7 separate regions of the Homo sapiens genome follow, and all the other regions are linked to region 5. The links come from fine-mapping of genetic effects on gene expression. A gene starts in region 5. Each other region holds a variant in brackets. All regions are shown on one strand. Distances are between the middles of the regions. Region 1 overlaps COX7A2L (cytochrome c oxidase subunit 7A2 like). Region 2 overlaps EML4 (EMAP like 4). Region 3 overlaps EML4 (EMAP like 4). Region 4 overlaps EML4 (EMAP like 4). Region 5 holds the start of EML4 (EMAP like 4). Region 6 overlaps EML4 (EMAP like 4). Region 7 overlaps EML4 (EMAP like 4).

The links.
Region 1: its variant is fine-mapped to the expression of EML4 in whole blood (INTERVAL, PIP 0.98).
Region 2: its variant is fine-mapped to the expression of EML4 in sun-exposed skin (GTEx, PIP above 0.99).
Region 3: its variant is fine-mapped to the expression of EML4 in testis (GTEx, PIP 0.91).
Region 4: its variant is fine-mapped to the expression of EML4 in subcutaneous fat (GTEx, PIP 0.99).
Region 6: its variant is fine-mapped to the expression of EML4 in whole blood (INTERVAL, PIP 0.97).
Region 7: its variant is fine-mapped to the expression of EML4 in whole blood (TOPMed, PIP above 0.99). The same link has a PIP of 0.9 or more in blood mononuclear cells.

The regions. Positions count from the first base shown.
Region 1 is chr2:42,346,730-42,350,729 of GRCh38, forward strand. COX7A2L (cytochrome c oxidase subunit 7A2 like) reads right to left here. Exons shown (of 3, transcript NM_004718.4): 3 at 2,609-4,000. Among named protein-coding and RNA genes, the nearest start is that of COX7A2L, 12 kb to the right of the region's middle. The variant A/G (reference allele first, on the strand shown) is at 1,951.
Region 2 is chr2:42,270,203-42,274,282 of GRCh38, forward strand. The region is part of intron 6 of EML4 (EMAP like 4); the gene reads left to right. Among named protein-coding and RNA genes, the nearest start is that of COX7A2L, 89 kb to the right of the region's middle. The variant G/C (reference allele first, on the strand shown) is at 1,663.
Region 3 is chr2:42,323,863-42,327,942 of GRCh38, forward strand. EML4 (EMAP like 4) reads left to right here. Exons shown (of 23, transcript NM_019063.5): 20 at 1,605-1,692; 21 at 2,292-2,390. Among named protein-coding and RNA genes, the nearest start is that of COX7A2L, 35 kb to the right of the region's middle. The variant G/A (reference allele first, on the strand shown) is at 2,009.
Region 4 is chr2:42,226,970-42,231,049 of GRCh38, forward strand. The region is part of intron 1 of EML4 (EMAP like 4); the gene reads left to right. Among named protein-coding and RNA genes, the nearest start is that of EML4-AS1, 59 kb to the left of the region's middle. The variant T/C (reference allele first, on the strand shown) is at 2,001.
Region 5 is chr2:42,167,667-42,171,746 of GRCh38, forward strand. It overlaps EML4 (EMAP like 4), which reads left to right and starts at 1,687. Exons shown (of 23, transcript NM_019063.5): 1 at 1,687-1,970. The coding sequence starts at 1,946. It overlaps EML4-AS1 (EML4 antisense RNA 1), which reads right to left and starts at 2,565. Exons shown (of 4, transcript NR_110584.1): 1 at 2,304-2,565. RefSeq lists enhancers at 1,269-1,408, 1,421-2,073 and silencers at 1,489-1,538, 1,639-1,698.
Region 6 is chr2:42,264,953-42,269,032 of GRCh38, forward strand. The region is part of intron 6 of EML4 (EMAP like 4); the gene reads left to right. Among named protein-coding and RNA genes, the nearest start is that of COX7A2L, 94 kb to the right of the region's middle. The variant A/G (reference allele first, on the strand shown) is at 1,927.
Region 7 is chr2:42,281,595-42,285,674 of GRCh38, forward strand. It overlaps EML4 (EMAP like 4), which reads left to right. Exons shown (of 23, transcript NM_019063.5): 8 at 1,229-1,378; 9 at 3,040-3,109. Among named protein-coding and RNA genes, the nearest start is that of COX7A2L, 78 kb to the right of the region's middle. The variant T/C (reference allele first, on the strand shown) is at 2,094.

The DNA.
Region 1 (4,000 bases), 180 kb after region 5:
AGTCTGGGCGACGGAGTGAGACCCTGTCTCAAAAAAAAAAAGGAAATTAGCTTTTTATTATAATTAGTGATGTTGAATATCTTTTTTAAAAAAATGTTTTATTCTTTTTAAAGTTAAATTATATTTCCTTTTTTTATGAGCTATCTATTCATGTACTTTGCCCATTTATCTCCAGAGTACTTTTTTTTAAAAATTCTTTAGAGATTGGCTTTTGCTCTGTCGCCCAGGCTGAAATGCAGTGGCGCAATCTCAGCTCACTGCAGCCTTGACCTCCTGGGCTCAAGCGATTCTCCTGCCTCAGCCCTTTTTGTATTTTTGTAGAGACAAGGTTTCACCATGTTGCCCAGGCTGGTCTTGAACTCCTAAGCTGAAGTGATCTGCCACCTCAGCCTCCCAACATGCTGGGATTATAGGCGTGAGCCATGGCGCCCGGCCTAGTAAGGCAATTTAAACCACAAAGAAATGTTATCACTTAGAGGACTGGCAAAGATCAAAAAGTTTGGTAATATTTTATGTAGACAAAGGTAAAAAGAAACAGGCACTCTCAACACTGCTAGATAGGAATGTAAACCAGCACCTTTTTTTTTTTTTTTTTTTTAGTAATTAGCACTATTGAAATTGGAAATGCACATCCCCCTCACCTCCTAAATCTCACGTCTAGAAATGATCCTAGAAATATATCCAACATTGTATTAAATGACAGCTAAAGATTATGCATTAAAGTCATATTTATAAAAGCAAAAAATTTGAAACTGAATACCCTTCAAAAAGAGACTAAACTATGGTACATTCATAAAATAAAATCCAATATAGAAAAATGAGACAGAACAATCTCTAAGCTACAAGTGAGATTTGGAAGGTATACTAACTACCATTTAGGCAAAAATAAAACAGGCAAAGAAAATGCGTTGGCCGGGCGTGGTGGCTCACACCTGTAATCCCAACACTTTGGGAGGCCAAGGCACGTGGATCACCTGAGGTCAGGAGTTCAAGACCAGCCTGACCAACCCGGAGAAACCCCGTCTCTACTAAAAATACAAAATTAGCCAGGTATGGTGGCGCATGCCAGTAATTCCAGCTACTCGGGAGGCTGAGGCAGGAGAACTGCTTGAACCCAGAAAGCAGAGGCTGCGGTGAGCCGAGATGGCGCCATTGCACTCCAGCCTGGGCAACAAGAGCGAAACTCCATCTCAAAAAAAAAGAAAATGCATCTATATATGTTCATAGAATATATCATAATAAACAGAGGAAACTGAGGTAAGGAAAACACAAGGTCAGCATGGAAGCCATCTTGTCTGTCACAAGGTAGGGAGGTGATCAAAGACTGATAGGAGATGCTCAAAGAACACAGAAGCCACATTTCAGCATCAAAATCAATAATGGCAGAAATGCTTACTATACATCAAATCAGGAAATTCCATCAAATTTCTTTAAAGGCTCATCTTCACAGAAGAAATATCAAAAATGTAGAAGGAATGACAACAGAAAAAATCAGTTTACAACTACCTTAGTAATAATTCAGTCAAGAATGACCAATGAACAGAGTGCAAACTGCTGAGGACACGATATTCCTAGTCTCAAATATCGCCCCTCAGGCTACTTATTAACTGCAAAGGGGAAAGGGTATCAACTTGACAAGGGAGAAATCCGGCAGACACAACTTCAAATCACCAATAATGGGACAAACTGGTATCAAGTGCCACCTGACATAACGAGGACACCATATCACCTATAAAAAATTCCTGACAAAAATGTTTAACCTGAAACCACCAATGAGACAATCAGACAAATCCAAGTTAAGGAATGTCCTACAAAACAACTTGCCTGGACTCTTCAAATAGGTCACTATCAGGAAGGGCACTGGGGACTGACTATTCTGGATAAAAAGAGACTAAACAGTCACAACATGCTGGGCACGGTGACTCACGCCTGTAATCCCAGCACTTTAGG[A/G]GGCTGAGGCGGGCAGATCATGAGGTCAGAAAATCGAGACCATCTTGGCCTACATGGTGAAACCCCATCTCTACTAAAATTACAAACAATTAGCTGGGCATGGTGGTGTGCACCTGTAGTCCTAGTTACTCGGGAGGCTGACTCAAAAGAATTGCTTGAACGTGAGAGGCGGAGATTGCAGTGAGCCAAGATCACGTCACTGCTCTCCAGCCTGGAGACAGAGCAAGACTCCATCTCAAAAGAAAAAAAAAAGTGACAACAACTAAATGCAATGTATGATCCTTTGCTGGATCCTGGACCCAAAACAAAAACAAAAAGGAACTGCATGTGCTGGTGAGAATGTTAAATGGTACAACTGAGTTGGAAACAGTCTGGCAGTTCCTCAAAATGTTAAACAGAGTTACCATATGACCCAGGAATTCCACTCCTAGGTAGATACCCAAGAGAAATGAAAACATATGTCCATGTAAACATATGTTCACTATTGCTCATAGCAGCATTATTCGTAACAGCCCCAAAGTGGAAAGAACCCAAATGTCCAACCATAGATAAACAAAATGTGGTATACCCATTCGATTGAATACTATTCAGATAATAGAGTATCGATTCATGCCACAACATGGATGAGCCTTAAAAACATGACACTGAGAGAAGCCAGTCACGTACATCACACATCATATGATTATATTTATATGAAATGTCCAGGAAAGACAAATCCATAGAGACTGAAAGTAGATGAGTGCTTGCTTTGGGCTAGGAGGTGGGAGTTGGGATGGTGGGAGGGAAGGCAAGTGATTGCTAATGGGTATGGGGTTTCTTTTTAGGGTGATATAAGTGTTCTAAAATTGATTCTCATGGTGGCTGTACAACTCCAAATACAGTAAAAACCAATGAATTGTACACTTGAGGTGAACTGTACAGTATGTAAATTATATCCCAATAAAGCTGTTATTTTTTAAAAACACAACTATGAAGAACTCATTATTAGAACACCTGGGGAAATCTGAAAGTAAACTATGTATTAGATGGTAGTATTGTTATAAATGTTAACTTTATTGAGTCTGACAACTGCATTATGGTTATAAAGGAACACATGTCCTTACTCAGAAGATACCTGCTAAAGTACTATGGCTGATTTATCATAATTCCCTAACAATCTTAAATGACTCAACAAAAAACAGATCTATGTGTGTGTGCATATATGCATTGTGTGTGCCTGTGTGAGAGAACAAGAAAAAGCAAAGGTGCCAATATATTGATAACTGGTGATCTAAGTGAAGGATATACAGGTGTATATTGTACTATGCTTAGTCCTTCTGTAGTCTGAAAATTTTCAAAATAAAAACTTGGAGGAAATACCAGAGAATAAAATTTAGATTTGCAGAGAGAGAGAGAGAGAGATATCACTGCAAGGCTACTATTGAGTATTTTCAAATCACCACATCTTATCCTGAGCAAGAGGTCACTGTTCTGTGCTATGGTAAGATACAAACTATTCCTTCATATATAATAAAATTCCACCTTTTTTCAAAATTAATATAGGGTAAGTGAAGTCTACCAATCATGACAGCAAAGGAAATTAGTGTCTAAATGAACTGTGAGTTACAGGTACCTTTCACTAAGGGGCAGGCAGGTTTTTATAAAAAACCATGTGGTAATCATCAATATGCCATTAAGACTCCTATTACTAGACTTTTAAGAACCATTTTATAAAGATTATCTGGTGCCTAATTAACAAGAAAGAAATTAGACTCAGGTTTAAGATGCTGCTGGTGTTCTGAAATTACTCTGAAAGGTCATTCAAAGAACTTCAAACTTAAAATTTTTCATTCATGTATTTATTCCACAGTCAAAATAAATCAAAATTTAAAGCTATAACATTTTTAAAAGATAAAGGAGAATTTGTGGCACAGCTGCATTAACAAAACAGACACCAGTCTAAAGTGCAACACTAAACAGGTATTCTCTGTTCCCACGGTGGAATAATTACACATAAGATTTCACTAAAGATAGGAGATGAGGCAAATAACCCTTTGAAATTACCTGCCCA
Region 2 (4,080 bases), 100 kb after region 5:
GGAAGGACAGTTGCCTCCTGTCCCCACAATACCTTCACTAACTTGCTTGTGAACTACCTTTTGAAGAACTTAAAGGCTAGGTGGGGTGGCTCATGCCCATAATCCCAGCATTTTGGGAAGCCAAGGTGGGTGGATTGCTTGAGCTCAGGAGTTCAAGATCAGCCTGGGCAACATGGCAAAACCCCATCTCTACCAAAAATACAAAAAATTAACGAGGCGTGGTGGCACACGTGTAGTCCCAGCTACTTGGGAGGCTGAGGTGGGAGGATGGCTTGAATGCAGGTGCTTTTGTTCAGAGCCTTGCATTATGTTTTCTGACCTTTTGGCTCCAGGCACATTTAGTCCTAAAATCTGTTCACACCTGTGCAAACTGAGCATTGTATCTGAAAGAATAGCTAAAATTTATCGATAAAGATATATAATAGCGGTGTCCTGCTGACTCTGTATATTGTGTCACCTATTGAGAGGGTGTATATTGTCATTTACTGAGAGAGTGTGCAGTTTGAAACAAATGAAAAAAGTCAAAAGCCTTTAATCGAACTACAGACAGATTCTTTCCTTTTTACCAAGGTGGTATCCCAAACTTGGCAATTCCCGAATTTAGGAAGAAGTTTGTTGAGTGTGGATAAACAGAAAGGACGGAAGACCAATGCATTTCCAGTGGAGACACATACTTAATTCTAAAACCTATGTATTTTCTTTTTTATTTTTGAGATAGGGTCTCACTGTGTTGCCCAGGCTGGAATGCTGTAGAATGATCACAGCTCACTGCAGCCTTGACCTCCCGGGCTCAGTTGATCCTCCCATCTCAGCCCCCAGAGTAGCTGGCACATAGGAATGTGCCACTGTGCCCAGCTAGTTTTATATTTTTAGTAGAGACAAGGTTTCGCCATGTTGCCCAGGCTGTTCTTGAACTCCTGGGCTCAAGTGATCCGTCTGCTTCAGCCTTCCAGAATGCTGGGATTATGGGCATGAGCCACTGTGCCTGGCTAGTTCTAAAATTTACATACTGTCCCTTTTAATAACCTGTATAACCATAACTTGGATCCCTACATCTGGGCTTTGTCCAAGTATTCTCTGTATTTTTATTTATTTTATTTAAGAGGGTAGAGAAGGCACTGCCAAGGACAGCAGGCCCGCCAGGCCGCTGGTCTCGCCATCTGTATTTTAAAAGGAGACCCAAAAAAGGGGACCTTTCCTCTGTTGGAGATTTTTTTTTAAGCCCTATAAAGCAAAGATCTGATTTCATAATGTTGTGGTTAGTAGCAGTCTTCCAGATTAAAATATGTTTGAAGGCTGTCCAATTTTTTAAAATAGAAACTATCCCAACTTCTAAGAACATGTTCTTGACATCCTCTTTCCTTATTTTCAGCGAAGAAAAAAGCCCCAACTGCCTTCTCTGGACATCAAGTATATGACTTCATTAGAGAACGTTCTAATCTTATACGTATTTATTGTGGTTAAAGTCTTTTCATTCAAATTACGCGTATTTTTGCTATACACATACTTTTTAAAAAAATCTAAACTAGAAAATGTAATTAACCAGAAATTTTTCAGTCTTCAAGTCTGCCAGTTAACTGAGTGAAATATTTTCATAGTTAGAAATCTGTGCTGTCCAGGCCGGGCACAGTGGCTCATGTCTGTAATCCCAGCACTTTGGGA[G/C]GCCAAGGTGGGCAGATCACCTGAGGTCAGGAGTTTGAGACCAGCCTGGCCAACATGGCAAAACCCCATCTCTACAAAAATACAAAAATTTGCCAGGCATGATGGCACCTGTCTGTTGTCCCCACCTACTTGGGAAGCTGAGGCAGGAGAATCGCTTGAACCCGGGAGGCGGAGTTTGCAGTGAGCTGAGATCGCACCACTGCACTCCATCTCAAAAAAAAAAAAAAAAAAACCCTGTCCAAAAATGGCAGTTATATTCTATACTGTATTTCTTACTCTAGTAATTGTTATTGTTTTCTAGAAGCACTTTGAAAAGAATGCTAAAATTTGTGATTAGCTGTAGCCAGGAAGAGTTGCGGTTGATCAGTGGCATATACCAAGATTTCAAGGAAAAAGCATAGTAAATCCTGTGCCACGTCCCTGAACTACACTCACAATTCTCCAAAGAACAGTTTCACCAAAAATATTCTATTGTTTTCCTTTAATAATGCTTTTTAAACTTTGGTGAACTATTTTAATGTTTCTAAAAATATATTCAAATAATATAGTGAGCACCTGTATACTGACCACCCAGATTTATCAGATCTTTACATTTTGCTTTATTTGATTCAGGGGTTTTTTTCATTTGTTTTGGTCTCAAACTCCTGACCTCGGGTGATCTGCCCACCTTGGCCTCCCAAAGTGCTGGGATTACAGACATGAGCCACTGTGCCCGGCCTGGACAGCACAGATTTCTAACTATGAAAATATTTCACTCAGTTAACTGGCAGACTTGAAGACTGAAAAATTTCTGGTTAATTACATTTTCTAGTTTAGATTTTTTTTAAAAAGTATGTGTATAGCAAAAATACACGTAATTTGAATGAAAAGACTTTAACCACAATAAATACGTATAAGATTAGAACGTTCTCTAATGAAGTCATATACTTGATGTCCAGAGAAGGCAGCTGGGGCTTTTTTCTTCGCTGAAAATAAGGAAAGAGGATGTCAAGAACATGTTCTTAGAAGTTGGGATAGTTTCTATTTTAAAAAATTGGACAGCCTTCAAACATATTTTAAGAAATAACATTATAGTTGAAACTTCTCATTAATCCTGTTTAATCAGAATTTTTATATACAGGTTTTTAATGTTCTGCTGAGGCCTCCTGATTGCCTCCCTGCTATAGTTAATTGAGAAAGCAGAGCCAGGGTGTTAAATATTTTGACATTTGAAGTTTCCTTTTCAAATTTCTTATTTTTAAAAAGTTAAGTGCAACTTGGTATATTCATATAAAATGAAAAGCTTTTTCATTTATTTAGTGCTTTAAATAATTTTTCCTGAGGATATAAGTGAATGAGTTGGGAGAATTTTAAAAATAAAACCATATTTTGCCTACAGAAAAGTTTTAAGCAGTATAGTTAGTCTTTTAGCAGTTTTATGTGTCTCATATTGTTGAAATAGATTTCTTTTCCATCTTTTCCCAATAAAGTCATTTCAAGCAGTAAAAATAATCTAAAATGCTTAAGCAAACTCATGTCTGATATTTTCAAGTAATTTTATGACAGAATTGTAAACAAAACATCAAGAGAAATCTGATTAAAGGAGTTTAGGTTCAAGAAGGTGGGTAACTGTAAGTTGGCTTGCTAGTGTAATTAGTATAAGAGTTGATTAACAGGTGCACAAGACATGGTTATGTCTCCAATCTAAGCTCTTAAGAGGTTAGGTTCATATCTTTTACACTGTGCATCCCCCACCCCACTATGTAATTAAAAATTCAGGAAATTTTATCAGCCAATAGAAGAAAAAAATTAAAGTAGCATTTTGTACTTAGTCAGATTTTTTCAGACCCAAGTTTTATGCTAGCTAATAAAACTACTAATCTTTAGCAAGTACTGGAACTAAAAATTTTTTAAATCTGTGAAATAAGAAAGTTAGATTATACCCTTCTAAATTCCCTTTTAGTTTATTTGGTTATCTACATTTTATGATTTAACTATTTTTACAGCTAGATCATTGAAAGGGGGCAAAATCCAAACATGCTTACAGATTCCATTGTTTCATTGGAATTTTAAAATACTGAATTATAACCAGAAAATAACTGGATCATTAACTGGAACTTGAAGTCTTTTGTTTGGATAAAGAACCTTTTTAAGAAAAGATTTTAGCCTTCCAAAAATGGTCCTTGTCACTTTCTACTATAAAATTACAGTAAATATTTCTAGCATTTTGGTTGTCCTTTTGTTTAACTCTGTGGTTTTGGGAAGTAGAGACTGATAGTATCAGAAAAAAGGCTCAAATTAAGTAAAGATTCTTTAAGTTTCTGTTTGCAGAAATTAAGTAGCATCATACTCTCCTACCTTTCAGTTAAATATAAAACTCAAATTCCAGTTTGGGGGAGGCTTTTTAGTTCTAAAGATTGTAAAATACAGATTAAAAAA
Region 3 (4,080 bases), 160 kb after region 5:
GAACCCAGGAGGCGGAGGTTGCAGTGAGCCAAGATTATGCCACTGCACTCCAGCCTGGGTGAACGAGTGAGACTCTGTCTCAATTAAAAAAAAAAGAAAAGAAAAAGAAAAAGTCTTAGAGGAAGAAAAGAATAGGTGAAAAAAAATAAAGGCCAGGTGCAGTGGCTCACACCTGTAATCCCAGCACTTTGGGAGGCTGAGGTGGGCATATCACTTGAGGCCAGGAGTTCGAGACCAGCCTGGCCAACACAGGGAAACCCCGTCTGTACTAAAAATAGAAAAAATTAGCTGGGATGGTGGTGCACACCTGTATTCCCAGCTACTCAGGAGGCTGAGGCATGAGAATCATTTGAACCTGAGAGGTGGAGATTGCAGTGAGCTGAGATTGTGCCACTGCACTCCAGACTGGGCAACAGAGACTCTGTCTCAAAATAAAAAGAATAAAATCATGTGACCAGAAAGCTAGTAATTGACCGGATACAGTGGCTCATGCCAGTAGTCCCAGCACTTTGGGAGGCTGAGGCTGGAGGATCGCTTGAGCCTGGGAGTTCAAGACCAGCCTCGGCGATGTGGTGAAACCTTGTCTCTGCAGAAAATACAAAAATTAGCTGGGAGTGATGGCATGTGCCTGTAGTCCCAGCTATCCAGGAGGCTGAGAAGTGGAAGGATCACCTGAGCCCAGTGGGGTCAAGGCTGCAGTGAGCCATGATAGCACCATTGTACTCCAGCCTTGGCAACAGAGTGAGACCCTGTCTCAAAAAAAAAGTTAGTAATTGAAAAAGCACAGTAGAAATTAAATGTGTTTGACCACAGACTGTAGGAGGTAAAAGCAAATTCAAGTCTCTGTCAGCTTTGGTGAACCATAAGATCTGTGTAATTTATCTGAAATAGTTTATTGGAAATGCTTAAGTGCTTATACGTGAAGCCAACAAAAATTAGTGTTTCGTAGTTTTTTTGTTTTAATTCCCACAGTGTGAAAACCTAAGCAGAAAAAGATCGTTGTTTCCTGCTTAAGGAATGTTTTAAGGAATCATGATTTTATTGAGACCTACTGTTCTGATGGAGTACAGCGTTGGGTGAATTTTCCCCAAAACATTCTTTAGAGATAGTCTTTCTAGGATACCTCCATAGACCATATACGGGTGCTGTATTCCTCAGCTTCTGAGTTGTACCATGGATAATTCAGAAGTAGCCCAGGAAAACTGTATTCCTGATGCCTTATGCACAACTTATAACCAACACTTCATTCTCAAAAATGGAGTCACTCTCATGGGGACACCAGTGACGTGAAATAAGGCCAGAGGGTGTGGTATGTGTTGCAATGTCCTGTAAGATACAAGTTTAAGAGACTGTCTTTCTTGGAAGTGTCTAATACAGGTAGTAGGTGCTAGTTTCTGGTATCTAGATAGGCCAGAAAGTTTCTCCCAGGTTTCAAGTGCTGAGGATTTGCTGTGAGCCTGCTCAGTTTTAGAGGGTGTGACACTGCTTCCTCTCCTTTAGAAATTCCAACAAATGTGTATTCAGAAACAGTATTGGCTAGCTGTTGAACTGTTTATCATTCAGAACTCTAAATGCTTTCTAACAATTTATCTGTTATTTTCTAGGGACATTCCAGCTACATCACACACCTTGACTGGTCCCCAGACAACAAGTATATAATGTCTAACTCGGGAGACTATGAAATATTGTACTGTAAGTATGAATGATTTTATATATATATATATATGCTATGATTATATTTATATATATATATATATATATATATATATATATATATGCTAAGATGTGTCTGTCAGGGGCGCTAATGAACAGGCTGCATGGAATCTGAATTGTGCAGAGAATGCTTGCCAACCTCTTTAACCTGACAAAGCATATGTTATGCTGAGCTAAGGTAATGAGAATCTCAAATGTGATTCACTTCTCCAAGAGTAATGAATTAATGTTAATAGTGTAGAACAGAAGGCACATATAGTAATAAGAAATTACTCTGTCAAATTGATGCTGCTCT[G/A]AATGGTTTTTCATTTAATTACTTCTCCTGGAGGCAGGGAGGAATATGATAGATGGGCATTTATGCTTTTTAGAGGAAAAAAAAAACTTCCATGGGAAACAGTTTGTAGTTTTATAAACCCTGTTAAAGTGAACACTTTCTTTTCCTTTTTAAATGTGTCTTAATGTTTTTCAGTGTATGGATTATAAATACAAGTAAACGTGGCTAGTTTGAATCAAGATGCACTTTCAAATACATTTGTACACAAGCACTATGATTATACTTCCTGTTTCTAAATTTAAAGGGGACATTCCAAATGGCTGCAAACTAATCAGGAATCGATCGGATTGTAAGGACATTGATTGGACGACATATACCTGTGTGCTAGGATTTCAAGTATTTGGTAAGGAAATGACACCTGATGTAAAGAAGTGGTTTGTGGGTTTTTTATATATAATATTTACTTGCTTAAATTTATAAATGAAAAATAGTCTGTGTATTCTTTAGCTTTATCACTATTAATGTCAGCCTCAGAGAAATTAAATGTATTAGGATTGAACCAACATGGGATTTGTATTTTGCAGAATCAAGCACTTTTGGTCCTTAATATGAAAGACAAGGAATTTACATAGTAGTACAGATTACCTTCCCGTTTTTCTTTAAGTGAAAATTGAAGTTATTAAATTTGGAAAGGCATTTTTAAATAGCTTGAGATACATGCCATACAATTCACCTAAAGTGTAAAATTCAGGCTGGGCGCAGTGGCTCACACCTGTAATTCTAGCACTTTGGGAGGCCGAGGTGGGCAAATCACCTGAGTTCAGGAGTTCGAGACCAGCCTGGCCAACATGGTGAAACCCTGTCTCTGCTAAAAATACAAAAATTAGCTGGGCGTGGTGACGTGCACCTGTAATCCCAGTTACGTGGGAGGCTGAGGCAGGAGAACTGCTTGAACCTGGGAGGCAGAGGCTGCAGTGAGCTGAGATTGTGCCACTGCACTCCAGCCTGGGTGACAGAGTGAGACTCCAGCTCATAAATAAATAAAGTGTAAAATTCAGTGGTTTTTGTATACTTAGTTGTGTGACCATCAAGGTCTAATTTTAGAACATTTTCATTACCCCACAAAGAAACTCTGTACCCATTAACAGTTACCCCATCTCTCTTATCCTCTACCCCACCCCCCAGCAACCACTAATCTGTTATTGATTTGCCTTTTCTGTATAGTTTATATAAGGGGAATCATACAATATTTGATCCACTGAGACTAGCTTCTGTGATTTAGCATAACGTTTTCAAGGTTTATCCACGTTGTAGCATACATCAGTACTTTACTCTTTTTATGGCTGAGTAATATCCCATTGTATGGATAGATGACATTTTGTTAATTCATTCATCAGCTGATGGACACTTGGGCTGTTTCTACTTTTCAGCTATTATGAATACCACTGCTGTGAACAGTCATGTGCAGGTTTTTGTGTAGACATGTTTTCATTTCTCTTGGGTATTTACCTAGGAGTAGAATTGCTGAGTCAAATGGTAACTGTATGTTTACTCTTTTGAGCAACTGCCAGACTGTTTTCCACAGTGACTACATTTACATTTCCACCAGCAGTGTACGAGGGTTCTGGTTCCTCCATGTCCTTGTCAGTGTATTTTATTATTATTTTGCGTGTGGATGTCTAGTTGCCTTACACCACTTGTTGAAATACAAAGGCATTTTTAGGAGAATTATATAAAGATAACTATGTGGGGCTTCTTCCTAATCTGACGTTTTGTAACTTTCTGGAAATCCGACCTCTATGACTGTTTTCTAAGCCTTCCTCAGTATTTAGGTATCCTTCTGAAAGGGTTAGAAGATAGATGGAAAAGTTAAAATAATAAAGCGTTATTTGCAAAGAATTAAAAAGAAGTGTTATGCTCAGGTAATTAAAATACTGGATATGGATGTGGCACCAATACCTAAAGCAATACACAAAAATTAATATTTTCTCTTTAACAATTTATCTCTGCCTTCTGAAAATTGGGTTCTCCAGCCTGATCATAGATCTGAACATTTCTTTATGCTATGTGCATTAGGAAAATAATCCATTATA
Region 4 (4,080 bases), 59 kb after region 5:
CACAAAATTTCCATGAAATTCAACAAAGGGAATCCTCTCAAAAGGAAAGCAAGATTTTGTTGAGCCTTGTACTGAACTTGTTTAATCCAGACTTTTTTCCACTTTCAGTTTTATGTGCATGTGAAATGATGTTCATTCTTTTTCTTTTTTTTTCCCCTTGAGGTAAGATCTCGCTCTGTTGCCCAGCTGGAGTGCAGTGGCACAGTTGTGGCTCACTGCAGCCTTGACCTCCCAGATTCAAGAGATCCTTCCACCTCAGCCCCCACAGCCTGCCCCAAGTAGCTGGCTGAGACTACTGGCATACACCTGGTTTTTTTTAATTTTTAATTTTGTAGAGATGGGGTTCTCACTATGTTGCTCATGCTGGCCTCAAGCAATGCTCCCACCTCAGCCCCGCAAAGTGCTGGGATTACTGGCATGAACCACTGTGCCCAGCCTCCATTCTTATTTTTTTAAAGAATTACATCCTACCTGCTTTCAAAATTAATATGAGCCTGTTAAGGCTTTTTTTTTTTTTTTTTTAAACCACCCCTCTTCCACAAAGAAAAACTTTAAATTTGCTTCTGGTCCAGCAACTCAATTTTGTGTGACATATTGCAATATATATGCCCTTCAAATACAGTTGACCCTTGAACAACACAGGTTTGAACTGTGTGGGTCCACTTATATAAGGATTTTCTGCTGCCTCTGCCACCCCTAAGGCAGCAAGAACAACCCCGCCCCCTTCCTCCTCCTCTGCCTATGCAGCATGAAAACAGCAAAGCTGAAGACTTTTATGAACATCCATTTCCACTTAATGAATAGTGAATATATTTTCTCATGATTTTTTTAACATATCACCTTATAAAACTATAGAATATATATAACATACAAAATATGTGTTAATCAACTGTTTGTTATCAGTAAGGCTTCCGGTCAACCGCAGGCTATTAATAGTTAAGTTTGTAGGGAGTCAAAAATTATACATAGGCCGGGCACAGTGGCTCACACCTGTAATCCCAACACTTTGGGAGGCCAAGGTGGGCGGATTACTTGAGGTCAGGAGTACAGAAGCAGCCTGGCCAACATGGTGAAACCCCATCTCTACAAAAAATACAAAAAATTAGCTGGACATGGTGTCACGCACCTATAATCCCAGCTACTCAGGAGGCTGAGGTATGAGAATTGCTTGAGCCTGGGAGGCCAAGGTTGCAGTGAGCCAAGATTATGCCACTGCACTCCAGCCTGGGTGACAGGGAGAGACTCTGTCTCAAAAAAAAAAAAAGTATACATGGATTTATATACTTGAAAATTGCTAAGAGAGTAGAAAGAATTCTCCTCATAGAAAAATGAGTGGGTGGTCAGCACCCCTAACCCCTACATTGCTCAAGGATCGACATAGTTTTAGGAATGAAGTTGATGAGTTTTGCTGATATAGCTTGTGGTTGATTGATAGATTTCCTCTGGGTCTTTCTCTGCCTTCTTTTTTATTTGAAATAGGCTAAAACATCATGTTCTTAGAGCTTGTCATTTAAAATTTAGTATTCAATACTTATATCATTTGGAATATAGCTGTAGTCTTATAATTCAGAAGGTATAGCTTTGCTTGTAATGTTTTATAGGCCTACATAGTGAGCTCTTAAAATGGCACTGCTTTAAAAAATTTCTCATGAGTATTTTGCTTTTAACAGAGAAATAACTTGCTCCAGAGACCAGGCTTTCATTCTTTTCTCTCCTGGTAAAAATTGACTGACTTTCTGTGAGTTCTACAATTTTCTGTATATATCTGTCAGGACAAGTGTTGTATTGTACTTTATTTTATTTATTTATTTACCTTCTTCTCTCCCCCACAATGCTTGCTAGGGTTAGGAAACAGTCTTATTTAAATCCTAACAATGCATGGTATGTATTAATAATTAGAAGGTCACTTAATGTTAAAAATGATTATCAAATAAATAACATATATCTTTGTGTTGTTTTCACTGTCTCCTGCTAATTCCAATTTAGTCCATTTTTAATTT[T/C]CTGATGATTAAATGAAATTTAGTGAGTAAACAAATCAGTAAAATATAGTATCTCTTTCTGCTAATGTATTAGAAACTAAGTTTTAGTAAAACTTTGATCGTGTACCCTAGGTACCTGACTGCAAATGTTACTCATCCTTAAGGATTAAGGTGATCTAGGTGTGGGTTTAGCAGACCTTTGTATTGGAATCTTATGATGATTATAGTAGTAGCTAACATTTATAAAAAGGAAAATTTCACTATTTGTTGTTTTTACATGCTGTTTAATTTATCTAATTTAATTTTCTATAACTTTATATGTCATCTAGATGTTCTTAGCTTCATTTTAAAGATGGAGAATCTGAGGCATGAAGAAGTTAAGAAACTTGCCTGGGTATATAGTTACTAAATGATGAAGCCAGTTTTTAAATCCCAGACAGTCTAAATCCAGCACTGTGCTCTTAAGCACCATATGCATATTAAGTAAGTTTTTAGCTTACACATGAACTTTGTATTCCAGGAACAGTTATGTTAGTAAAATATTAAATGGTAGAGAATTTTTTCATAAAGCAAGACAGATAACTGTCTTGCAAGAGTCACCCATTCACCACGAGAGAGAAAAATAAAAGAAATGTGAGTGAGTGAGTTTAGGGCTAAATACATGTAAATACTGAGTTTGTCAGAGGAATCAGGGAGGGAAGTAAAGTAGATTTTTTTTCTTGGGTAAGAAATAAAAGCATTTAGCTCATTTGCTTATAAAAAATAGTAAGAGGAAAACTCTAGCAAAATAAATCTAGAGTCTTGGTTGAGGCCCACTAATGCGAGAACATCTGACCTCTTGGTTGGGCTAAATCTCTAAAACTGATAGGAATAACAAAAATATACTTAATTTTGGTCATATCCTGGCAGAGGGGAAAGGAGGGCAGGAAGATAGATAGCCTCAAAATCCAGGTACAAGAAAGGAAAGGGGATATTCAGAGAAAGAAAAAAACCATAAAAAGGAAGAAATACTAGATGGTGAGGGAAGAGGAGAGAGATACCGATCTTTTCTATCATGCAATTATTGGCTAAATTTGCTTCTTCCAGATTCCCCCTCAGCTACACGAAACTTCTAATAAAGGGGGTTCTTATCTTCTAAAGCAACCCCTAGTCCTATGCATGTCACCAAACTAATAAGTGTCTTTTTTTCATTCCCTGTTTTATCCTGTCTTTGCTGCTTATTCTGAAGCACAACCACAACAAATCAACCACTGTTTGGAGAGTTATTGCAAAGTGTGATGCTTTGCAGGTGTAGAGGAAAATGAAAAATAGCTTCTTCCCCAGAGGGTTTTACAATCTAGTTAGGAATTTTAAATGTAACTTTATTAAAAGATAATTAACAATATCCTACAATATTATGAGTTGTGTGGTATATACAATTCCACACTTACCTATTAGCTCAACCTCTTATTTTTTATTTTATTTATTTATTTTTTTGAGACAGAGTCTTTTACTGTTGCACAGGCTAGAGTACAGTGTTGCAATCTTGGCTCACTGTAACCTCCGCCTCCCAGGTTCAAGTGATTCTCCTGCCTCAGCCTCCCTAGTAGCTGGGACTACAGGTGTGTGCCACCATCCCCAGCTAATTTTTTATTTTTAGTAGAGATGGGGTTTTGTCATGTTGGCCAGGCTGGTCTCAAACTCCTGACCTCAGGCGATCCCTCCACCTCAGCCTCCGAAAGTGCTGGGATTACAGGCGTGAGCCACCGTGCCCAGCCAGCTCAAGCTCTTTAACCAGGTCTTCTCAGCAGGGCACTGTGTCTCCTGCTTTACAGAAAAATTAGGTAGAAAGACAAATATCTTCACCTCCTCTCATCTTCTTCCCTTCATTCTTAGATAAAAGTATCTCTTCTCAGAAAAGGCTCATTCTTTGTCTTGTTTTTTCTATTTTAGCCCTTCACATCTCTAACGCTGGAGCTCTGCTCCATGTCCTTACGTGTTAGTATAAATAACTCTGTTGGTTCCTTCCCTCAACCCTGTAAATCTATTACTCTTACATTTAAATAAAAACACCACTGTCAGCTTTGCAGACACTCTCTTCACCCCCGTCTGGTTAAACCCT
Region 5 (4,080 bases):
TTCCTTCTGGATACACAGACTACATTCCTAGCCTCCCTTGCAGTCATGTGACCAAGTTCTGGCCAGTGGAATGTGGACAAAAGGGAGGTACACACTTCCAGGTCTGGACCATAAAACATATGTATACCAATATGCCAAGTTCTTATTCTTTTAATCGACCTAAGGCAGAGAGTGTGGCCTGAAGACACAAAGGAACAGCTGTCAGAATTGAGAACTTCTCAAACATTTACTTAGGCTTAATAGAAACTTATGCATATGAAAATGCCCATAGCAGAAGGAACATTGGGTAAATCATTTAAGTTTGAAGAGAAGGAAATTTTAGACACCGTTTAGTCTGTAACCTGAATTTATCTTGGCTGCGTTATGGCCAGTCTCCATATAGTATGGTATTCAGAAACAGGTCTTATATCCAAATAAGAAATGCAAAGTAATTTACATTTTTAGGGAAGATTTTTAAAGAGGCAACAAAGGGAGACGTATACCCCAAGAAGGTTTAACAATCCTTTCAATCATTTAATTCCTCTAAGTCTCTCTCATCATTACATATTTCTTGTCTCCCTTCTTGTTTGTCCCTCTCTCCTGCAACTCTGTGTAGTAGGACTCTGTTTTCCCCTAACTCAGCTTTTTATTATGTATTTATCAATTTATTATGTATAGATCAATTCAGTTCTTCAGTACCTTACAGCTCTTCTCTCTCTTACTCTAATCTGCACAACTGAGCCCCAGGAGGGACTTGACAAACCATGAGAAAGTCTTTAGAAGTATGGGAAATCGTGTTGGGGAAGGGAGGAAGAATATGAACGCTATGTATATTTACATGTTTTGGTTACATGTCCAGACAACCAATTTGCAAATGAATAAAGTGACGCCTAAATAAATTAGGTGATTTGACACTCTTGAGTCATACGGAGTTGGGCCTAGAACTCAGTGTTACTTCATTTGAAATAACCCTTATTATGGTTCCCTAGCAGGCCATCCTATAGCCTGCCATATATGGTCGTTTTGCACCCCTAGACGACAGAACGCTAGGGAGAGTAAGGAAGGCTGAGTTTTTGCTTCTACTAGGTTCGATGACCTTGGGCAGGTTGTCCTCTCTAAGGCTCTGTGTTTTTCTTCATAAGAAGGGTTAGACAAGATGAACTTTTGGGTCATGTCCAGCACTAAAATTCCTTGCTTCTGATCTGTCCCGGGCCCTGCGGCTGTGGCAGTGGTGGTATCGAGCTAGTCAAGAAGCTTCGCCCCTATTTGTCCCCCACCCTATTGGGGGAGAGGGAGAACCTCTCCCTCTTGGTTGCTTCTTTAGTGTCCTTGTAGGACCCACGTGGTGGTCATCTCCCGTCACGGGGGTCCAGTCTTGGCTCTGCGGGCTTCCCAGGGGCCACATAGGGAGAGGATCCTTCATGCATCAGAGTATCGCAGGCCAGAGTCTATGCCTTATCCCCACCTGTTTGGAACCAGCTTCCAAACCGTGGTCCCCAGCCTTCAGCAGGCCTACCGCGCAGGCGCAACCACCAGCCTGGCGCGAGGCGGACAAACGCCGAGGCCGAGGCAAGGTGAGAGGGCGGGGCTGGCAAGACCCCGCCTCCGTGGCGTCACGTGGGAGGCGGAGTCGGAAGTGTGACGGCGTGCGCGGGGCGGGGCTACTGCTGCGCGCGGGCGCGGGGGCGGGGCGGGGCGCGGCGCGGCGCGGCGCTCGCGGCTGCTGCCTGGGAGGGAGGCCGGGCAGGCGGCTGAGCGGCGCGGCTCTCAACGTGACGGGGAAGTGGTTCGGGCGGCCGCGGCTTACTACCCCAGGGCGAACGGACGGACGACGGAGGCGGGAGCCGGTAGCCGAGCCGGGCGACCTAGAGAACGAGCGGGTCAGGCTCAGCGTCGGCCACTCTGTCGGTCCGCTGAATGAAGTGCCCGCCCCTCTAAGCCCGGAGCCCGGCGCTTTCCCCGCAAGATGGACGGTTTCGCCGGCAGTCTCGGTGAGTACGGCTGGGGAGTCCTGCGTCTTCTGCGAAGGGTAGGAACTTTTTTCCTTCCGCACACAGCCCAGGCCCTGCCCTCCCGCCTGCCCCTCGGGGTGGCAGCGGCTCCACTGCACATGTTCCCTTCGAGGCTGCCGCCCCTCCGCGGACTCCGGTGGACTGAGGGCCCCTCCCCCATGTCCAACTCTCCTCTGTGTCAGACCCTCCTTTCCTCCCGGAGCCCCTTTCAGTGCGGGGCCCTCGTTCCCCCAAAGTGGGAACCCCTTCCTTCTCAGGCCCCCCGATAGCTGGCACACCCCTCCCCGTACACTCACGGCTCCCTCCACTTACCCCCCTTCAGAGTTGGGACATTTCTTCAAATCCAGGCTCCTCTTCAGGGTACAACCTTCCACCACCTTTCCACATACACGCCTCTCTTTCAGGGTGGGGATCGCCTTCACCCGAACAGAGGCTCCTTTTTAGGGGAGGGACCCTCATTCCCTCTTCAGGAAGGGGGCATCCCCCGCCCCCAAGTCTTCACTTTAGATTTGAAGGCGACTTTCCAGTATCCTTCAGAGTAGTAGGCAACTTCCTTTTCAATCCCTCCACTTCTCTGAGCATTTTGCAGTGGTGGAGAGACCTAGAAGCATCGGAGCATCATTTGCTTAATGCAGGAAAGGAAGAGGTGCATCTGTGTTGGGGGACCCTCTTTAAGAGTGAAAGCAGAAGTGTTTTCTGGTTCTGCATACATGCTGGGGAGAAGTGATTCTGCCCAATGAATCAATAGGAAAGGGGGCCTCTATCAGGGAAGGAAAGGATTCTCCATTTTTGGAAGATGTTGTCTTTGTGGAATGGAGAAAGGGAAGAGGTTATTAAATAGGCTGAAGTGCCTTTTCAGTGTTCCTTTCACCAGATGAAGGTAATCTTCTGGCTAGGAAAATCAAAACTCCAGGCTAGTATTCGCTGCCCTAGAAGCTGAATCTGGAATTACTATTCTTCGAGGCCATTGAAATCTAGTAAAAGATTAAGTTCAACTGTTAGAATGGTGAGAGAAACAGTTTCAGCTTTGGCTGATAACGCAGTTGTGTGATACCTACTGCTGGAACTGTATTTTGAGTTTTTTATGTGCAGGTAGCTTGTATTCAGACGCCTTTCTTTTACATTTCTTGATAATAAGTCTCTACTTGGTTAATGTTCACTGATCAGTGAGCAGTCTGGCCATAGGCCGTACTATATCCAGATAATATCGAGATGAGATGGATTTTTAAAATCTAAAGTAAAAAAGTAAGTCAAAGAGCAATGGGCCTATTATAGATATTAAATAGTAAAACCTATAATTTTGGCCTTCCCTTTTTCTTGGGCAGAAAAAATTGTCGTTATATTGCTTTCAGAGTGGAAATCCTAAAATAGGAGGCAACTGAGTGTTGTGTTACTCTTTCCTCCTCAAAGGCACCTGTTGTCCATTATCTAACCTTTGATGTCTTGTAATTCCTTACTTAGGTTGGGCTCTTTTTAGAGAGACATCCATTTTTCCCTGGTTCTTTTTTAGCTCCATGCGTTGGTTTATTCACAGTAAGTGTTGGACCGAAAAACTTGTCCTATATGTCCGCTGAAGGGCTGATCTTATACTAAAGTAAAAATTGAGTGTCTTCTTAGGGGATGTTGTGGAGAGCTGTGCTATCTTTATACTGTATTGGGTCCTCATCCTGTAGGAGTGGTGAGATCACTTTAACTTCTTTCGTGTTGGCTCTAAAGATTTCTGGAGGGCTTGTTAAAGCTTCATCTTCTGTAAGTGTTTAGGAGGAGTCTTTCTCACCAGTTGGGGCACTTAATGTTTATTTTCAAACATTGATTATGCTTTGTAATAGCTTTCTTCTTTCTTAACCAGTTTATGAGGCAAGTGATACAAAAGACCGAGAGATGAAGATGAATTGCAGTTGGGGCTCACACTTTTCATAAAGAGCGTCATTGTTGACCCTAATGTTGGATTTAAAAAATTCATTTGATGCCATGCTTTGGGTGGTATGTGATGAGACTTTCCTTTAGATATGGTGTTAATCAGGAGCAGAGGAGATATGCCTATCAGAGGAACCTGCATCTGCAGAGAGGGAAGGAAATGGTTCCTGGC
Region 6 (4,080 bases), 97 kb after region 5:
TAAGAATAAGCTACGCAGTTGGTTGCCTTCTAAGTGAATTTTTTCCTGGATCTCTTATTTGGCTTTTTATTATTTATGCTGCCTGACTTTCTTCCTTAAAAAGGAAATACAGTGATTTGAGCTAGATGAATCCAGCTACATTTTACTTTTTTTTTTGAGACCGAGTCTCATTCTGTTGCCCAGGGTGGAATGCAGTGGTGCAATCTCGGCTTACTGCAATCTCCACCTCCTGGGGTCAAGTGATTCTTGTGCCTCCCAGGTAGCTGGGGACTATAGGCACCACCACACCCGGCTAATTTTTGGTGTTTTTTGTTTGTTTGTTTTGTATTTTTAGTAGAGACGGGGTTTCACCATGTTGGCCGGGCTGGCTGCAAACTCCTGACCTCAGGTGATCAGCCCGCCTCAGCCTCCCAAAGTGCAGGGATTACACGCATGAGCCATGGCACCCGGCCAATTTTTGTATTTTTAGTAAAGATGGAGTTTCACCGTGTTGGCCAGGCTGGTCTCAAACTCCTGACCTCAAGCAGTCCTCCCGCCTCAGCCCCCCAAAATGCTGGGATTATAGGCATGAGCCACCACACTTGGCCCGGCTGCATTTTTAAAAATCCATCTTATTTCTAAGAAATCTGAAGATTCAAGGTGAACAGTAAAAATACAGTATTACAAAAAGGGATAAAATACTAGAGGGAGTTTTCTCCCTTAAAAAAAAGTTTTACCTAGAAATAAACGATTGATAAATTTTAACTCAGTTTCCTGTCTTGCCAACTTCATTGCAAATAATCACTCATTTCTTGATGCTAAGACTGAAAATATGATGAGTCTAGCAAATCCATTTCCTCTTAAGTTTTTCTTTTATATTGATTGTAACTTCTGGCTACTTGCTGTTGTTGGCTTGTTCAGACCAAAAAAAGAGAGCAGACTTTTGGCGAATGCGTATTTAATTTAATTGCACTGTAGGTAAGTTTTATACATCAGTTTTACATTCTCTTTAGATTGCCTGCAAATTTAATTGAAGCATGCTGTTCTTAATGAAAGCACGTCCTTTCTGTGCATGGTTTTCACAGCTCATTTCTATGTTTCATAGTTAGCCTTATTTTCTGTTCTATTATAGTAACCAGCTGCAACGTGGTTAAAGCTTTTTTTAGAGATTTAACTTGATTTCTGTGGATTTTTACTTCTTTCGTTCCAAAAAGAAAAGAAAGAAATATTTGTAATAGTCTTTAGGTCATTTGTTTTTACATAGACATTCTAAATGAAGTTGAATTTTGCTGGCATTCTTCTTTAGTAGGTCTTACTTTCTCCCTTCTTTATAATACAACATAGATTAAGTAATGTTTGAGATACTTTAAAGGGAAAAATGAAATTTTATTTATGAAGATAATTCTTAATACATTATATATCAAAACTTTTAAGAGAGAGGGTCTTGCTCTGTTGCCCCGGCTGGAGTGCAGTCACTGCCTTGGCTCACTGCAGCCTTGGCCTCCTGGGCTCAAGCAGTCCTCTCACTGAAGCCTCCCAAGTAGCTGGGACTACAGGCGCGCACCACATACCTGGCTGATTTTTGTATTTATCATAGAGATGGGGTCTCACTTTGTTGCCTAGGTTGGTCTCAAACTCCTGGGCTCAAGCAGTCCTCCTGCCTCAGCCTCCCAAAGTGTTGGGATTACAGGCGTGAGCCACCACTTCTGGTCCGAAAACTTTTTTTTTTTTTTTTAAATAGAGTCGGCGGTATGTGATAGGAAGAGCAGTGAATGGGGAATAACTGTGTTTAGTGGTTGGTCCTGGCTCTTATGCATAATAGCCTTATGACCTAGGCTGAATGACAATGTCTCTGAGTGGTTTTCTACTCTAAATATAGTAACTATAAAGCTTATTTCACATGACTACTGAAGGATGAAATAATATATATGAAATATAAATTGAAAT[A/G]TAGTGGCATCTACTGAAATAGGGAACATTTGAGGAGAAGGAGATGTGTGGAAAAGGAGTTTGGCTTTGGACAATTGCATTTGAGTTGTCTATAAAACTTAACCTACATGTAGAGATGTATAGCAAACAATGTCATGTAGATGTTTAAACACATGGATTTTGGAGTCCAGAGAGTGGTTTTACCATTGACTTAGCTATAGTGACATTGAGCAGGTTACTTCAACCTCCCTAAGTCTTTGTTTTCTCATCTGTAACTGAGATAATAATAAGCCATTAAAGGGTTACTGTAAAAATTATAGTAATAAAGTGTACCCAGTACCTGACATATAATACCAGGTAAGTTTTAGTTATTAATATATGAATTTGGCAGTAAAACCTTGCACTCAGATTTGTATTATCAGATGAAAAGATAATTATTAAATAGGTGAGAGTCATTGACTGTAAGTTGTATAGCTATTTTAGAAGTGTGGTATTCATTTTGCATGGCATATTCACAACACATTTTCTAGTATTTCAGCTATTAATGCTAATATTTGTCATTTTTTGACATTCTTTTTAAAATATGACATTAATTTAGCCTCTTTTTGACAATGATAGCTGTGGCTTGTTCCAAATCATCTGCTTTGATTTGAGAAGAAGCCTATTTACATATGGTACATTTAGGTGAGTGGTAACAGAGAATACTTTACCTGAAAGGCCTGTGTCCTTCAGACAGAGCAGAGTAGGAGAAAAGCTAGAAAGCTGCATATTCCAGTCACCACTTAGGCAGAAGTCAGGAAACTGGTTGTTGAAAGCAATAGAAAGTGAAATGAGATGTACGCAGGGCAATCTCTGAGGTTAGGTGTGAGAGGAAGGGCAGGTTATGCCACTAAAAAGAGGCTCTTACTGACCTATATGTTTATACCCTGAAACCTAAACTTTTTTTCATTACTCTCTCCCCTAGTTCTGCTGGGTTGTGCTCCAGATACAGCAGAGATAAAGTCCTAGCATGTCAACTTAAAATTTGAATAAGTTCCATGTAGGACTATCTATTGTTAGAGGTAGCAGTTAGGTTGTAGTACAATAATATTCACTTTGGTGAGTTACTGATTTTAAAAAATTTTCCAAGCTAAGTTGGGGGACTTCAGGCACCATGTATAAAATTGCTTATTGTGGAAAATAGATAACAATTTGACAAATTTTCTAATAAACAAAATGATACTGCCATTAAGGTCATCCTTGAAATAGTTATCAAGTACAACTGGCCTTCCATATCTGCGGATTTCACATTCCTGGATTCAACCGACCTGCATTCGAAATATTAAAGGAAAACAAAGTTCCATCTGTGGTGAACATGTATAAACTTTTTTTTGTCATAATTCCCTAAACAATACAATATAACAACTAATAAGTAATCTAAAGATGATTTAAAGTATACAGGAAGATAGTCATAGATTACATGGAAATACTATACCTTTTATATCAAGGACTTGAGCATCCACAGATTTTGCTCTCTGCAGGAGATCCTAGAACCAGTGTCCCATGGAAACCAAGGGACCAACTATTTATTTCATTTCAAATTTATTATTTATTTATTTAGAGACAGGGTCTCACTCTGCCACCGAGGCTGGAGTTCAGTGCACGATCATAACTCACTGCAGCCTTGAACTCCGAGCTTGAGTGACCCTCCTGCCTCAGCCTTCCAAGTAGCTGAGACTACAGGCACATACCACAACACCCAGCTAATTTTTGTATTACTTTATAGAGGCAGGGTGTCACTGTGTTTCCCAGGCGTGTCTCAAACTTTTAGCCTCAAGCAGTCCTCCCATCTCTACCTCCCAAAGCGTTAGGATTATAGCTGTGAGCCGCCGCACCTGGCCTACATTTTTTAGAGATGGAAAATAAGTGTCACATGATCTCATTATTTCTGGAGGAGAATCTGAATGTCCTCAAAATGTTTTTTTCAGACTTGAATAATCTTAAATTTAATTTTTCTCTTGTAGAACTTCAAACTAGGCCTGTTTAGATTTAACACATAATTACCTGGTCATGTTGAGAAACTGAATGACTCAGATCTCTACTGGAAAGAAATCTGCTTATTTTGAGGAAAAAGGAAGTCATCAATCACTAAATCCAAGTCTTCCTCTTACTGTGCTGCCTCCCTGCTCTAGGATT
Region 7 (4,080 bases), 110 kb after region 5:
ACTTTCTTTACTTATAAAAGGGGTTAATTAATAACCCATACCTCACAGGGGCTGTTGTAGGAATTAAATAAGAAAACATCAGTTAAGCATTTTGTAACCTCAAATTAACAAGGCTGATTCTAATTCAGAATTAACTTTTCAGCCAGACTTTTTTTTAAATGACTGTTAAAGGAGAGCTTTCCTAATTTCACCTAGAAATTTTCACTTCTTTTAGAACCTCCAAGAAACTCAGTGAAACAGAAGGAGTTGGTAGTTTGAACTCTGTTGTCTGCCTCCATTCTCCTGCACTTCCTCCCACGTCCCTTGAATTATTCCCTTCTTAGGCAGATATCAGCTTGGACACACTCACCAATCCTTTCATTCTGTACAACATATTTTTAACAAACATTCTGCCTACCAAACTGTTCCTTGCTATTACTTATTTATCATTTAGGTCCAGCATAAATATCCCTTTTCCAGATAGGCCTTCTTTTGGTCCCTCCCTTCTCTCTCTTTTTCTCTCCATCTAAATTAGGTCCTCCATTTGGGCTTTCTCCTAGCAGTCTTTTTTTTACCCCCCCACGATTTGTAATTTTATATTTGGTGATTTTTTTTTTTCTTTGCCAGAGGATAAGCTCTAGAGACATAGGGCCTACATTTTTTTTGTTCAGAACTGAATGTTCACCATTATGCCTGATACACATTAGGATTTCAATACATATTTGTCTGGTAAATGAGGAAACTAAGATCTTAACATACTGAAAGAGTCAGGTTACGCTAGGGATAATGGCAGGATATGAGTTTTCCTTTTTTTTGGTGGAGGGGTGGGGGTGGGCGGCAACAGGGTCTCTGTGGCCCAGGCTGGAGTGCAGTGGCACGATCACTGCTCACTGTAGCCTTGACCTGACCTCCTGGGCTCAAGTGATTCTCCCACCTCAGACTCCCAAGTAGCTGGAACTACAGGCACAGGCCACCATGCCTGGCTAATTTTTTTTATTTTCTGTCGAGATGGGGTCTCACTATTGCCCGCACTACTCTCAAACTCCTGGACTGAAGTGATCCTCCCACCTTGGCCTCCTGAAGGGCTAGGATTACACGTGTGAGCACTCTGCCCGTCCAGGACATGAGTTTTCTAGTTCTAGTTCAGTCTTCTTCATTGTACCTTCCTAATTCCTTAAGTATCCATGAAAAATCTGTTAACAACTTGAAAACTGTGTTTATTTAAAACCTTGACTCTTTTTCTGTTAAGATATGGTTATCGAGGAAAGGACTGTAGAGCTAATGTTTACCTTCTTCCGACCGGGAAAATAGTTTATTTCATTGCATCAGTAGTAGTACTATTTAATTATGAGGAGAGAACTCAGCGACACTACCTGGGCCATACAGACTGTGTGAAATGGTTGGTATCATTTAACATTGGTTCATTTTTGTTCTTTCAGGCCCTCATTTTGTATTTTTTAAATTTGGGTTTTATTGAAAGTGATTTCTTGTGGAAAGCTCAGAATGTAAAAATATTATGGGTCATCTGTTGAATATATTTTAAAAAGAAAAAAAGGACTTTCGGCCTCCAAAATGGTGGTGTGGTATCAGCAGCAACAAAACACATCCTCCATAAATCATGATTGGAACCTCTTCTGCTTTCTCATGTCGTACAGTCCTTCTCTTCTCTGGTCTGTAGTGTGAAACATATATGGGACAGACTGGACATTTTCAGGTTTCTGAAAGTGATTATTGGTTACTCGATATTTATTGAGGATTTGTCCTATGTAGATAAATTTTATACTTGAAGCTTTATTCTTTTGGGAAGAAAGAAATCTAGCTGAATAAGGATCATAAGTATGCCGTAGGATGTCATACTACAAATGTGAGAACTCCTTTTAAATGCTTTTAAATTATTTTGTTACTTTTTAGTTAAATGCAATTATTTATTGTTTATTAATATTTTCCAACTTTTATTTTTTATTTATTACCCTTTTCCCCACTTAGATCCAAGGACTGACTGGATGTTTTCCAACATTTAAAAGCTTTTATGTCTGTACTATGCTGGCACCTGTATCTTTATCCAGAAAAAAATTAATAGATGACTATTATAATATTATATAGATATTGAACTT[T/C]TGGAGTTGATTAAAATATTGCCTTTTACACTTGCAGAATAATGTATGTACAAAACTATTTACTGCAGCATTGTTTGTGATGAAGATTAGAAACAGCCTAAGTATTTTTCAGTTGGGGACTACTGGTGAGGTTGTAGTGTACCTATAGGTCACCATGTAGCTGTAAAGAATGAGGAAGCACTTTATGTATTAATATGTAAATATCCCTCTGATGTGTTCTTAAGTACAAATATTTAAGAGCAAGAGAATGTTCACAGTGTACAACCGTTGTTGAAAGAGTCTAGATATGGACATAAAGATGTCTTTTTCAGAAATTTGCTAGTCACTCATATACGTGCTGTGAGTAATTTAGGCACATATGCTACGCTACTTCCCATTTCTATTTAAAAATTCCTTGCCTCAGTTTGACTTACAAGAATTTAGCGCTAAGAACTAATTAAAAGATTGAAAGCACTATGTGTGAAGATGCTCATTGCTGTTTTCTTTTGTTGAAAAGTAAGAAATGGCCTAAAAGATGGAAGAGTTGTCAAGTCAGCATGTATGAGGATTATGTAGCAAAAGGAAAAAATGCTTGTACTTTAATAGATTAAAATTAAACAGCACAATATTGCATCTTCACTATAATAAAGTCGTGTGATTTGTATGCCATTGTGCGTGGACTAGAAAGGAACTTCAGCAAATGAAAACAGTTCGTTAGCATGCCACAGTTATAAATATTTTCTTTGAACTTAGTGTTTCATTAATCTGTGCAGCTTAACAAGTAAAAAGTACAGCTGAAAATTCAGAAATCTTCAGATATTTGATGATTGTTTGATTTGCTGAAGAAAACAGATAAACGTATGTTTTTTAACGATTAAAAACTGCTTATTTGAAAAATGTCAGTACAAAGGTATTCTGTTGTTTCATGTTTCCTGTGTTTAAAATCATTCTTAATACTGCTTTTTAGCCTTGCTATACATCCTGACAAAATTAGGATTGCAACTGGACAGATAGCTGGCGTGGATAAAGATGGAAGGGTGAGTGGCATAGTGTTATGCCTTCTGTACCTAGAGACATTGCTGTTAGAGTGGAATCTATTGTAATTTTAACCACAACTCATTTGTTTTATTCTTTTAAAATTTAAGTACTGAGGAATTTCTAGTATAAGCATGGAAAAAACATTAGGATATAAGAACACTTTAAAAGACAGAGTCATACTAATAAATTTTGTTTTTAAAAAATAAGTGTTCTCCCTTAAGAAGCTATTTACTGTAAAAATGGGAAAACTGATACGCTCGTTACATTTTCTTTATATAAAATAACATATAAAGTAACCAGTGTCTGCGGGAAGGTACTGCAGTTTCCCTTAGTTGATGAACCTGTTGATTCTTATTTACTTTCTTAATTAATTAATTAATTAATTATAGGGGTGGAATCTCACTTCGTTGCCCAGGCTGGGCTCAAACTCCTGGGCTCAAGTGATCCTCCAGCCTTGGCCTCTTGAGTGAGTAGCTGGACTACAGGTGTGTGCCACCATGCCCGGCTAACTCTTGATTTTATGTGTGACTAGAACTGATACAACTTAAAGAGTTACAGTTACTATTTAATATTATTCAGTTGGTTTGTATAACAAATACCTTATTTCTAAGGATCAACAGTGACTATTAATGGTGACTGAGTAACGTATGTATGACTATACTCATGACATTCTCAGGCTTCAGTTTCTTTAAAGAAAAGGAGTAGAAGGTTTCTACTGGATAACTTCTAAGACCCCTTCCAGTTTCAAATGCTATTTAAGGGCTGTTTAGCAGTTTATTGGACATTGATAAAATGTGTTATTTTCTCAGGAATGAAGATTAGTAATACTAAAAGCAAAAGTATCCGGAGCAGATTTGCCTGGATTAGAATCCTGACTCCACCTTTTTTTTTTCTTTTTTTCTTTTTTTTTTTGAGACGGAGTCTTGCTCTGTCTCCCAGGCTGGAGTGCAGTGGCACAATATTGGCTCAC